3 separate regions of the Homo sapiens genome follow, and regions 2 and 3 are each linked to region 1. The links come from fine-mapping of genetic effects on gene expression. A gene starts in region 1. Each other region holds a variant in brackets. All regions are shown on one strand. Distances are from middle to middle. Region 1 holds the start of TNRC6A (trinucleotide repeat containing adaptor 6A). Region 2 overlaps TNRC6A (trinucleotide repeat containing adaptor 6A). Region 3 overlaps TNRC6A (trinucleotide repeat containing adaptor 6A).

Region 1 (4,255 bases):
ATGTCCCCAGGGGTAGGGATGGGGGCAACATTGTCCCAATTAAGAATCACTGAGTCATTAAAACCTAAAAAAGTCTAATAAAAAAAAAATCAGCCAATCTTAACAGCTGTGCAAATGTTGATAAATATGACTGTTTTCATTGCCTTATGTTGTTGTGAAAAATTATTCCTAAACCTGGTATGAAAGCATATTGTGCCATTACGTATATGTTCATATTTTTAAACTCCTAATGAAACACCATAGTAACTTTTAAACATTTTAAGTAGAAAGGATTATGAAAGAAAAACAAATATGTGTGTAGGTAAATGAACCTCAGGGATGATAGCAGGAAAAGGAAAGTCACTAGCATTTATTCGGTGCCCACTACATTTTATATTTTGTAAACCTGATTTTTTTTTTCAAAAAAGTGTTTTTTATATGCTCATCGCAAAAAAGAAAAAAACAGATACACTAAAAGAAGAAAATGAAAAAAAGTCATAATCAGTTAACGTTTTGGTGCATATGTTTCATGACTTTCTGTGCATTCATTCACTAGCTTAACCTATCGGAGAGGACAGGAACCCAACATGTCTAGGGAAGTTTTGTTTGTTTTTAACGGGAGAGATTCAAGCATGTTGTAAAGCCAGTTGAAGCTGGGCGCGGTGGCTCACGCCTGTAATCCCAACACCTTGGGAGGCCGAGGGGGGCGATCACCTGAGGTCAGGAGTTCAAGACCAGCCTGGCCAACATGACGAAACCCCGTCATTACTAAAAATACAAAAATAGCTAGGCGCAGTGGTGCGTGTCTGTAATCCCAGCTACTTGGGAGGCTAAGGCAGGAGAATTGCTTGAACTCGGGAGGCGGAGGTTGCGGTGAACGGAGATCGCGCCACTGCACTCCAGCCTGGGAGACAGAGCGAGACTCCGCCTAAAAAAAATGATAATATAATAAAAAAATAAAAAAAAAAGCCAGTTGAAGAACTTAGGTTAGAAAAAGGAGAATGGGATGATCCACAGAGTGGGGTTTCTGAGAAAGTAAAGGTTATAGATTTTAAGCACAGAGGAGGAATTATCTTTAAATTAGAAGAAAAAGCTTGATGAGAGGTTGGAAAGAACACACGCAAGTGAAAATATGTATCTTACTGTATCTACATGTATGTGTATTGTTGTATCTACCTGCAGATATGTATGTCTTATTGTATCTACATGTAGGTATGTATGTATACTTTTAATGTACACATATGCATCTGTGTCTACATATATACATATCTTAGTCTATCTACATGTATGTATCTTACTGTGTCTACACTAAGATGTTTCTTACTGTGTGAGCTACGTTGGAACCTGCTTTTTCATTTATTCTATTGCAACCATTTCCTCCATGCCGGGATTATTCCTCCACATCATTTTTACAGTGTCCTAATACATGCCAGTAGCTGTTTTTGAAGCCATCTAGTAGCGCTGGACATTTTGGCTGTTTGCAATTTTTCACCATCATCAATACCACAGCTTAGTATCTCGAAGGTGAAATATTTGCAGATACCCAGAATTATTTCCTGAGCAGAAAATCCGTGCAGGCGGAACTGCTGAGTCAAAGGTCGGTGGATAAAAATCGCTTTTAAGCCTCACAACCCGCCTCAGGTATGCATTCTTTACCTGAGGAGGAACAGAGAAGCAGAGAGGTTAAATAACTGGCCCAAGGTCAAAAATAATTAGAAGTGGCTGAATTCAAAAGCCGCGCGGGCTCATCAGGCTGCAGTTGGGGTAAAATTTGCGTTTTAGGCAATTTTTTTTTTTTTTTTTTTTGGCGTGTGTCAGTGGGGGAGGGGCCGGGCGGCGGGTAGGAAACTTGTGTCGCAGCAAAGAAGGAGGAGGAGGGGAGGGACTCCCCTCCTCGGTCAGACCGGAGCCGGCCGCACCGAAAAAGGTTGGACTCGGGACTCCGCAGGCCCCCCCAGCCACTCCGCGGGGCGCCTCGGAGGCTGTGACCTCCAGGGAGGTCCGGCTGGGTGCAGCGTGACACGCCGGGGCGGTTGCCAAGGACCTGCCCAATCTGCGGGTCCAGTTGCTAGGGCCTCCATCTTGGGGGCCAGTGGCCGTGGCGCCCCCGGAAGGGGTTGCCGAGTGGGGCATTCACTTCCGGTCTGGGGCCTGCGGCGGCGGCGGTGTCGGCGGCGGCGGCGGCGGCGGCGGCGGCGGCGGCAGCGGGTCGGTGTAGAAAATGGCGCTGGTGCAGCGGCTCGGGCCTCTCCCCGCGGCGCTGCGGAGGGCTTGAGGCTCGCGAGCCTCCTTCGCCGCGCCCCACTTGCTCGTGCACTTTACACACATGAGGTGAGCGGAACAAGGGCCTCCCTCCGGGCGGGAGGAGCCGCGGGCGCTGCCGCAGGGCCCGCAACCCGCGGCGGCGGCAGCAGAGGCGGCGGCGCCGGGCGTCCCCGAGACTTCGGGCCTCGGCGGGAGGGCGCAGGCTGCGTTGCTGCGGAGGCCGAGCGGGCGGCCCGGGGGAGCCTCGCTGCGCCGCGCCGCGGGGGCCAGGCCGGGGTTGCGCCTCGCCCGCGCCGCGGGACCGCAGTCCGGGCTGCAGCCCCGCAGCTTTGTGAGTCCCCCTCCCCCCGTCCTCTCCCCTCCCCCATCCGGCCCCGGCGCGAGCCTCTGCCGCAGCAGCTCCGTTTTCACGCGCATCTCGTTTTTGTGTGTGTGTTTTTGTTTTGTTTTTGTTTTTGTTTTTTTGTTTCAGAGAATTGGAAGCTAAAGCTACCAAAGACGTAGAAAGAAATCTTAGCAGGTAAGATGGGCGAGCTTTCCGTCTCCCGCCCCACGATAATCGTATATTTCTACTCCGATTCGCCTTTTCTGGGTTGAGAAGTTCCCCCGTGACATTTTCTTCCGCACCCGGAGAGCAGACATTCGGGAGAAGCGGCCTGGGGGAATACTGGAGGGATTGCGGGGAGATGCGTAATTACGCGTGTGTTTCTTTCTTTAAAAAAAAAAAAAAAAAGCGCAAAGCAATTCTTGTAAACTTAGTTAAAGCATTCTCACCCTTTTAGAATTTAATTAGGGGACTTGTGCATTAATTACTATTGTAAATGGTTGCAGGCATTGTGTGACTCATGATTGAGGCGGCCCTTATGGCGGGCTGTCAAACTGTTTTGGCTTCCCCGTTATTACTTTGTAGCTCAAATTGTTGCTTTTATAAAAAGATACTATGTGTTCGCATTCCCCCCCGCCCCCCCCCCCCCCCCATACATTGTAGTCAGGCGGATTCTGTTGCATTGGACACAGTTTTGTCCTTGAACTTTACCAAGCATAAGCTGCGTTTTGTTTTCCTTCGAAACTCCATTTCTGTCCATGTTCGGTGTGTGCTCTTTTTATCAGCTGGTAAAATAATTAAAAATCTTTTCTCCAGAAGAGGTTATCGTTCCTGTTGGGCCCTGCTGCTTTTGCATCACCGTGAAGGGAGAATTTTTTTTTTTTTTTAAACGATGTCTTTATGGAATGGAAATATTTAGCTTCATTGAGCTGTAATTGCTTAAGCATCAAGGAATTGTACTGTATTTAACTCCTTTTCACATTCATTTTCTTTCCTACCGTCTTTTCCTTTCTTATTCCCCTTTTTCTTTTGCATCATATTGGGACACTCAGGGAAACTTAGCCAATTAACCAAATCCGTGAATAGCTTTCTTTTTTTCTTTTTTTTCACTTGTTGAAAATAAAATGAAATTTCTCCTATCTCAGGTTTTAATGTAGTTTGCTCTTGATGATTGCGGGTTTTAGGTTTACATTGGGGTTTTTAACACTCACATTTCAAATCGTCTGAATATTTTGCACCGCGTAGAATTGTTCCAAATTGCTGGCCTATTGAGTTTCATAAGATACTAATCTGTTCAGGTGATCGTTAAAGAATGTGTTCAGATGGTGAAGGATAGGCATCATTGGTTTACCCAGTAAGGGATTCTCTGTTACTCAAAATAATTATGGGATCATTTAAAGGAAATTAAGTCTGACATCACTGACTATTTGTGGTATATTTACATAAATTTTGTCAAAATCTAGTAAGGAAATGTTAAGATATGAAACCATTAAAGAAAACAGGTTGAGCCATTAAGGTGTAATATCAGCAGAACAGAGCTTAGAGGTCTGTTTCTCCTTCCATTTTTGTTTTATCAGGTAACTATATCAGTATAATTCCTATGAAGGTGCTCTAGTACTTAATTAAAAATTGTCTGTGCCACAGGTATAATTTTAATATTAGGTAGAACTCGAGTCTGGGTTGGCT
Region 2 (4,167 bases), 81 kb after region 1:
TTTAAGAAAAACTAGCTTAATAGTTTTCTGACCACTGTATCTAAGGTTGAAATTTCCATTCTTGTTCCAAGAGAATATCCAAGTCTGAGGGGCCTCATCAGCAAAGGTCAAGTAAATTGTGCCTTAAGATATATCTGTCCCCAGCCTAGGTGTAATTGCTAGTACAGGACATTTTTACTTTAGAATTTGCAAGCAAAAGATAGCAACTGAAAGTGACCACAGATCTTCATGCATAGGTACACTTGGGAAATAGCTAAACAGATACATTTTATTCCAAGTAAACTTATACATCTGGCTTCCTTAAAACTTTTCTCCCTCTTATTTTGCCAAGGAGTTTTAAATAAATCATCAAAATTTTATGGAGAAATATTTTCTACGTATAACTAAATTATAGTATTAACAGTTATGTGGTTTGAAAACATTAGTTACATGTTTTTCTAGGAAATAGAAGTTGTGCTACTAGAAAGAAAATGTGCTGTATTTTCTAAGGTTTTGTTTTGTTTTTTAATTTTTCAGGCTTGAACTCAAACTTGAATGTAAATATGGATATGAACAGTATTAAAGAGCCACAGTCAAGACTAAGGAAGTGGACGACAGTGGACAGCATTTCTGTGAACACATCTTTGGATCAAAACTCCAGCAAACATGGTACAAAAGATACATCTTACCAAAAAAAAAAAAAAAACACACACACCTGCAGAATACTAGATTTAGGCCTTTATTTTATTTTAAATGTGTTTTCAAAGCCAAATTATCTTAGAACTTTTCCTCATTTAAAAAAAGTTGTTATTAAGTCTTAGTTACAATAAGAGACTTTCAGATGAAAAGCAGAATTTACCTCTACTCTGTTTTATAAAGGAGAGATCAGATGATACATGTTTAAAAATTATTTTCTCTTTGGCTTTTTACATTTTTCTAAGTGATTTTATTCTTATATTATTACACTTATTAACATTTACTGGATTTAATTTGATATGTTCTTAGGACATTTAAAACTTCTACCAGGGTCCCATTCCGTCACCCAGGCTGGAATGCATTGGCATGATCTCAGCTCACTGAAAACTCTGCTCCCGGGTTCAAGCAGTTCTCCTACCTCAGCCTCCTGAGTAGCTGGGATTACAGGCCTGAGCCACCATGCCCGGCTAATTTTTGTATTTTTAGTAGAGACAGGGTTTCATCATGCTGGCCAGGCTGGTCTCAAACTCCTGACCTCAGGTGATCCATCTGCCTTGGTCTCCCAAAGTGCTGCGATTACAGGTGTGAACTACTGCACCTGGCCCATAATTTTATTTCTATCAATTCCTTATATATGGACACATTTCTTTATATAGCTTATTGCTATGTGTAAGTCATATGGATTTAACAGTATTGTCTTTTCAGCAATTAAATTTTTTTTAGAAATGCCGTTTTCATCTTATTTAGTATTATCCATTCACCCAGCAAATATTAATCGAGTATCTTCTGCTTTCCAAGGCTATGTTAGCACCTGGAATACATAGACACAATGTACATACATGCTTACAGTTGAATGTATGTATGTATGTATATACGTAAAATTACTTGCCCTGGAATTGTTCATTGTGAACGAAAGTATGTCAGCAGCTTTAGTACAATATAATAGGTAATATCAAAGTTAATATTTATAATAGTTTAATAATACCAAGTTCCTTAGGAGCATTGAGTCAGGAATAACTGCAGGTGTGGTGGGTCTAGAAAGGTGAAAAAGACTTACCTTGAGAAGAGTAAGTTTACCACACAAACAGGAAGAGCAACCAAGAAAGAATAGTGCATGCAGGGTTCAAAGAGGACTGCCTGGTGAATTCTGTATCTCGGCATATCTGGGGGTGAAGGTGCAAATGACAGAAAAGAGGTAGATGAAGATGGAATAGTAGGTGTGGTGCAAATCATGGAAAACTTGTGCCAAGAATGATTTTAAACATGAAAATGATGGGTGCCTAGAGGCAGTTAAGACTTAAAGTAGTCTAGGTAAGAGAGAGAAAGGTCAGTGGACATGAGAGGGAGTACACTGCAAGAGAGTTTCAAAAATTAAAAGCAGAAAAGCTTGGTAACTCACTTAACTCATTCTTTCATTCAGCAGTGTAAGCCTGAAACACTTGCATAACTGATCAGCTAGTCAGTCTCCAGCCCTCTCCAGACAGACCCCTCAGAGGTCAGACAAATACAGGACGGACCCGAGTCGCAGGCAGAAAAGAATAGGTGTTCGCCGTAAATCATATCATTAGAGTGGCCTAGGTGTAAGGCATGCAGAGGCACTCTTAGCTGGCAGAGTAGTCCATGGGCTTGGAGGAGCACAGGAGCTGAACAGGCGACGGTCCTGGCACACTTTGGAATGTGCA[A/G]TCCAGTCTGCCATGCTAACCCTTAGCTGCACACTGCACACCTACAGTAAGAAAAGTCTGATTTGTTAAGGGGAGTGGAGGCAAGGACATTTGACTAGGAAGTTCTGCATTACAGAAGGGTTAAACTGGATGTCTCAGATACTCTATGGGCCTAAGATTCTGTGACTTCCAGGCAGTTTATAAAATCCCTTCATCTCAGCACCCAGACGGATTTGGTGACATGTATAGAAGGAGATTTTTTATTTTAGCCTTGGTTGGAGGCAGTTGGGCAAGGCTTCTAGGAGGCCTGTGATCTCTGAAGCTGAGATATGAAAGATAAACAGAAGTCAGGCAGGCAGAGGTGAAGGGAGGGGAAACGATGAGAGATGGAGCGGGGCTAGAATTTTAAGAGCCTTATAAACTTGAAGAATTTGAACATTGCCTTTTGTATGTTGGAGAGTACTAAGCCAGGAGATGACATGATCAGATTTGCACTTTCGAATGATGCCTCTGGGTGCAGTGTGGAGAATTGGAGTAGATCTAGTATAGTCATTATCCAGGAGCTGTGGAGGAAGTGGAATTGACAGGGCTTGGTGATTCTAGCTTAAGCAGCCTCAAATGTATGATTGCTAGTAAAATGATATTTTTGTGACATTCTTTTTTTTCTATTGAATTTTACTTTGAAAGTTTATTAACTAAACTTTAGGGTCAGATTTCTAGATTGTACACATTGGACTAATGATTTTCAGAAATTAAAATTGTCGTGTAATAGAAGGAACCGCTAGACCATAAACCAAACAGACCTTTGATTCTAAGTTCGTTTGCCGTTCAGGGGAATGTCACTTTGGGATTTTTTTTTTTTTTTTTTTTTTTTTTTTTTTTTTTTTTTTTTTTTTTGAGACAGAGTCTCACTCGGTCACCCAGGCTGGAGTGCAGTGATGCAAATCTCTGCTCACTGCAACCCTCGTCTCTGGGATTCAAGTGGTTCTCGTGCCTCAGCCTCCTGAGTATAGCTGGGATTACAGGTGTGTGTCACCACACCCGGCTAATTTTTGTAATTTTAGTAGAGACAGGGTTTCACCATGTTGGCCAGGCTGGTCTCGTTCTCCTGAACTCAGGTGATCTGCCTGCCTCAGCCTGCCAAAGTGCTGAGATTATAGGCGTTAGCCACCAGGCCCAGCCCGGAATTTTTCTGACCTGAAGAGAGAGAACAGGGAGTTGAGACAATGGGGAAATGGCAAAATAAATATGAATCCTAGGTTCGAGACCTAGCTCTGCTACTAATTGACTCTGTTATTCCAGTCATGCACCACTTAATGGCAATGTTTCAGTAAACAATGGGCCATATATCCAGTAGTGGGTCCATTGAGCTTATAATACCATGTTTTATTGTACCTTTCCTGTTTAGCTATGTTTAGATACACCCTTCTGTTACAGTTGCCTACATTACTCAGTACAGTAACACACTGTAGGTTTGTAGCCTAGGAGCAGTAGGCTAGGCCATAGGGCTCTGCTGTGTAGTGGGCTCTACCATCTAGGTTTGTGTAAGGGCACTCTGATGTTCACACAAAAATGAAATTGCCTAGTTTCTCCAAGTGTAGCCCTGTTAAGTGACACGTGAGTGCAATTAGCTACTTGGCAAGTAACTTAACCTTTCTGAACTTGAGGTCCCTCATCTGCCAAATGGAATTAATAGTACCTCTTGGGCTTTTTTTTTTTTTTTTTTTTTTTTTGAGACCCCAGTTGCCGAGGCTGGAGTGCAGTGGCACAATCTCAGGTCACTGCAGCCTTGACCTCCCAGACTCAGATGACCCCCCCACCTCAGCCTCCC
Region 3 (4,255 bases), 74 kb after region 1:
TACTGCGTTTGAAGGTGCTCTGAAAACCACCTGGTCCAGTAAACAGTCGAAAATCTGGATGTGAAGCTCAGAATAGATGGGGCTGGTGATATGAAGTGTAATTAATTAGATGTGGATGATAGTGTAAGCTATAGGAATAGTTTGACTAGAGAGAGTTGGAGGATAATGGACCGAAGACAGTCCTGGGGAATAATGGCATTTAGGGGAGTGATCCTAAGCAGAAGTGGGACAAGTTAGAGTAGAATAATTTTTCAGACGCCAAGTGAGTACAGAGTTTTGAAAAGAAAAAACTGATTGTCAGGGAATGGATTTGACAGTGGGGCTCAGGGGTAGTCATTGGTAACTAATGGACCTTACTGGAGGACTGGTGGACTGAGGGGAGATTGCCACATTTGAGTTTCTTTTTAAAGGGATGCAGAAGTGTTGGAGAATGGTTTGTGGAAAAAATGTAACATGCTACTCTCTTTTTTTTTTTTTTTTTTGAGTTGGAGTCTCACTGAGGCTGGAGTGCAGTGGCGCAATCTCGGCTCACTGCAACCTCTGCCTCCCAGGTTCAAGCGATTCTCCTGCCTCCACGCCCAGCTAATTTTTTGTATTTTTAGTAGAGACAGGGTTTCACCGTGTTGGCCAAACTGGTCGCAAACTCCTGCCTGCCTCGGCCTCCCAAAGCGCTGAGATTACAAGTGTTAGCCACCGTGCTCAGCTGCTACTACTCTTTCAAAAGGTATTTGCATAGGCAAAAATAATGTGAATTATCAAGAAGGAACAGCTTGGAGAGAGAGTTAGGAGAACTGGTTGGAATTGGTTACAGGATTAGATGAAGAGAGTGGGGGAAAGAGTTCACAATGGCTAGCTTAGTTGTTATCAGTGAATTATGACATCTTAACAGGGAGAGAGAACAGAGGAGGGAGCTGTGGTAAGGATTATTGACATTCAAGAGAGGGCTCTTAAACAACTGTGAAAGGTGGATTTTTTAAATACCAGATTCATGACTGGAACAGTACTTCTTAGCTACTTTAAGAATTGTTTTCCTTTTCCACTTACCTGGAATGAGAGTAGTAAAGGTAAGTATTATGGTGGTGGCAGACATCTCAAAGAACAGCAGTTGCAAAGAAATGATGGATGAGATTTGAGGATTGAGAAAACGTCAAGAATGAGGAATAGGGAGATGAAAACCTGTGTTAACAGTGACAATGAGGCCGGGCACAGTGGCTCATGACTGTGATCCCAGCACTTCAGGAGGCCGAGGTGGACAGATGACTTGAGGTCAGGAGTTGGAGACCGCTTGGGCAACATGGTGAAGCCTTGTCTCTACAAAAAAATGCAAAAATTAGCTGGGGGTGGTGGTACATACCTCTGGGCCCAGCTACTCAGGAAGCTGAGGTGAGAGGATTGCTTGGGCCGGGGAGGCACAGGCTGCAGTGAGCCAAGATTGTGCCACTACGCTCCAGCCTGGGCAGCAGAGCCAGACACTGTCTCAAAAAAAAGTGACAATGGGACATCGAAATGGATGTGCTTTAGCAGGCAGGTAAAAATGTGGGACTGAGCTCAGTTGTGAAGTCTAAGCAACATGTTTATATTTGGGCATCACTTGAATGGGAGTGACTGCTGATACCCTGATAGTGAATGAAGTCTAAGGAAAGCAAGTTTACAGAGAGAGTCAAAAGACTGAGACCCTGAGTCTACTTTGTCAGCCGCAGAGTATCCCAGCATTGAAGAAGCACCCGAGGTGAGCTCAGCATGGGTAGAGGAAGAGAAACCAGAATGGACAGATGGTGAGGAGGGGTGGTAGAGAGCATTGTCCACTTTTAAAAGATTTGTTGAAATAGAGCAGTAGCTTTTGGGCCGGAGCTGGCTATATCCAGCAAAGATTTTGCAGGAAAAAAGTTTCCAGGAGAGAAGATCATTTTTTATTGCAGAGCAGTCAGAATGAGGAGAGGAGCAGACAGAGCAAAGCCTAAGAGAGGGGAAGATGTTACCCTGTCTGGTGTCCAGTTTCCTCATCTGCTAAAAGGGCGATAACAGTAGAGTTACAAACATTAAATTAGTACACATAAAGCATTCATAGGCCAGGTGCGGTGGCTCACGTCTGTAAATCCAGCACTTTGGGAGGCCAAGGCAGGCAGATCACCTGAGGTCAGGAGTTTGAGACCAGCCTGGCCAACATGGGGAAACCCTGTCTCTACTGAAAATAAAAAAATTAGCTGGGTGTGGTGGTGGGTGCCTGTAATCCCAGCTGCTCAGGAGGCTGAGGCAGGAGGATTGCTTGAACCCGGGAGGCAGAGGTTCCAGTGAGCCAAGATCACACCACTGCACTCTAGCCTGGGCTACAGAGTGAGACCCCTTCTCAAAAAAAAAAAGAAAAGAAAAAGCACTTATAATGGCGACTGACATAAACCAGGCATTTATTAAATGGTGGTTTATCACAGTGGGTGTTGATTGTTTTTATTACTTGTTAATGGAAACTTACCTGTATTATAAAACTCAGCAGATTAGAGATGGCTAAAGGTGCCTTAAGTTATGTAACCTAAGAGTCCTTTTAAAACGAGGCCGGGCCTGGTGGCTCATACCTGTAATCCTAGCACATTGGGAGGCCGAAGCGGCCGGATCACTTGAGGTCAGGAGTTCAAGACCAGCCGGGCCAACATGGAGAAACCTACATCTCTA[C/G]TAATAATACAAAAAATAGTCAGGTGTAGTGGTACACTCCTGTAATCCCAGCTACTCGAGAGGCTGAGGCATGAGAATTGCTTGAATCTAGGAGGTGGAGGTTGCAGTGAGCCGAGATCCCACCACTGCACTCCAGCCTGGGCCACAAAGCGAGACTGTCTAAAATAAAAAAGAAAAAAAAAGTGAGGTTATCAGCCAGCCACCTTCTGTTTACTAGTCTATTTCAAGTTAATTATTTCAGTAAAATAACAGTATCTCCTAATTGCGACTTCATTTGTGAGGAATGCAAAATTTATGAAATGGAAGTGTATTTTTCACATACCCTTGTCTTGGCTGAAGTCATTTCAGTTTGGAAAGTGAGTGTTTTGCTTTTGTTGTAAATTTATCTGAAACCAATTGGGTTGTCTTCCTGTTTGATAACAGTCTCCTGCCTTTATTAGGAATGTTACAAGACAAACGAATGGAGATAGATAAACATAGCCTAAATATTGGTGATTACAATCGAACGGTCGGGAAAGGCCCTGGTTCTCGGCCTCAGATTTCCAAAGAGTCTTCCATGGAGCGCAATCCTTATTTTGATAAGGTAAGGTTTTTTACTTTTACCTCTGACTTGATAAACCAGTATACTTCATAGCGTAATTTTCACACTAATATTTTAAAACCTTTTATATAATATAAAGTGTTACAATCCACTACCAAATCTTATTACTGGATTTTGAAGTTCACTGTCTTTTTATGTCTCAATTTATCATAGAGGTTGCATTTATATTTTTCTTCTTAATCCCATGAAATATGTTTGGCTCTTTTTGTGTGCTCTAGAATTAACACTAATCCGATCTCTTCTGTTTTCTACCTGTTTCCTGTTGATGCTGGAATGTCATGTGACTTCTCTTCTGTTCCTGCAATGATTTCTCCCTTCCACTTGTTTGCTTGGCTGGTGTTGCACATCTTTCTGTCTGTCCAATCAGGATGGCATTGTAGCAGATGAATCCCAAAACATGCAGTTTATGTCCAGTCAAAGCATGAAGCTTCCCCCTTCAAATAGTGCACTACCTAACCAGGCCCTTGGCTCCATAGCAGGGCTGGGTATGCAAAACTTGAATTCTGTTAGACAGGTAAGTCCAGATGTGTATTTTAGGCTCTCAGTTGAATGATTTGTATTAGTAATAAGATCTCTCTTACATGTAGTTACTGTGTTTAAATCATAGTACAGTGTGGTAATGAGATGTTTGTCCCTAAAGAATCCCACTGTTACTTGTTGCTGTTTGTTTTTATAGAATGGCAATCCCAGTATGTTTGGTGTTGGAAACACAGCAGCACAACCCCGGGGCATGCAGCAGCCTCCAGCACAACCTCTTAGTTCATCTCAGCCTAATCTCCGTGCTCAAGTGCCTCCTCCATTACTCTCCCCTCAGGTAAATAAGCTTTCCTTACATTCTCCTGTTTACCTGCAAAAAGGATCTTGCATGATTTTGTATTTGAATAAAATGGCTAACTAAGCATTATCATATTTATTGGCATCTTTGAGATTCAGCTAGTTTTGAATTAACTATTAAAAAAGGTTGTAGTAAGGAAAAGTCAAGGATAA

The links. PIP is the estimated chance that this variant, and not a neighbour inherited with it, causes the effect.
Region 2: its variant is the best candidate, but not a certain one, in a credible set for the expression of TNRC6A in whole blood (TOPMed, PIP 0.58).
Region 3: its variant is the best candidate, but not a certain one, in a credible set for the expression of TNRC6A in whole blood (TOPMed, PIP 0.79).

What each region holds. Positions count from the first base shown.
Region 1 is chr16:24,727,537-24,731,791 of GRCh38, forward strand. It overlaps TNRC6A (trinucleotide repeat containing adaptor 6A), which reads left to right and starts at 2,115. Exons shown (of 25, transcript NM_014494.4): 1 at 2,115-2,310; 2 at 2,717-2,764. The coding sequence starts at 2,306. RefSeq lists a silencer at 2,144-2,453.
Region 2 is chr16:24,808,834-24,813,000 of GRCh38, forward strand. It overlaps TNRC6A (trinucleotide repeat containing adaptor 6A), which reads left to right. Exons shown (of 25, transcript NM_014494.4): 18 at 517-648. Among named protein-coding and RNA genes, the nearest start is that of SLC5A11, 35 kb to the right of the region's middle. The variant A/G (reference allele first, on the strand shown) is at 2,358.
Region 3 is chr16:24,801,070-24,805,324 of GRCh38, forward strand. It overlaps TNRC6A (trinucleotide repeat containing adaptor 6A), which reads left to right. Exons shown (of 25, transcript NM_014494.4): 12 at 3,108-3,250; 13 at 3,636-3,782; 14 at 3,945-4,082. Among named protein-coding and RNA genes, the nearest start is that of SLC5A11, 43 kb to the right of the region's middle. The variant C/G (reference allele first, on the strand shown) is at 2,668.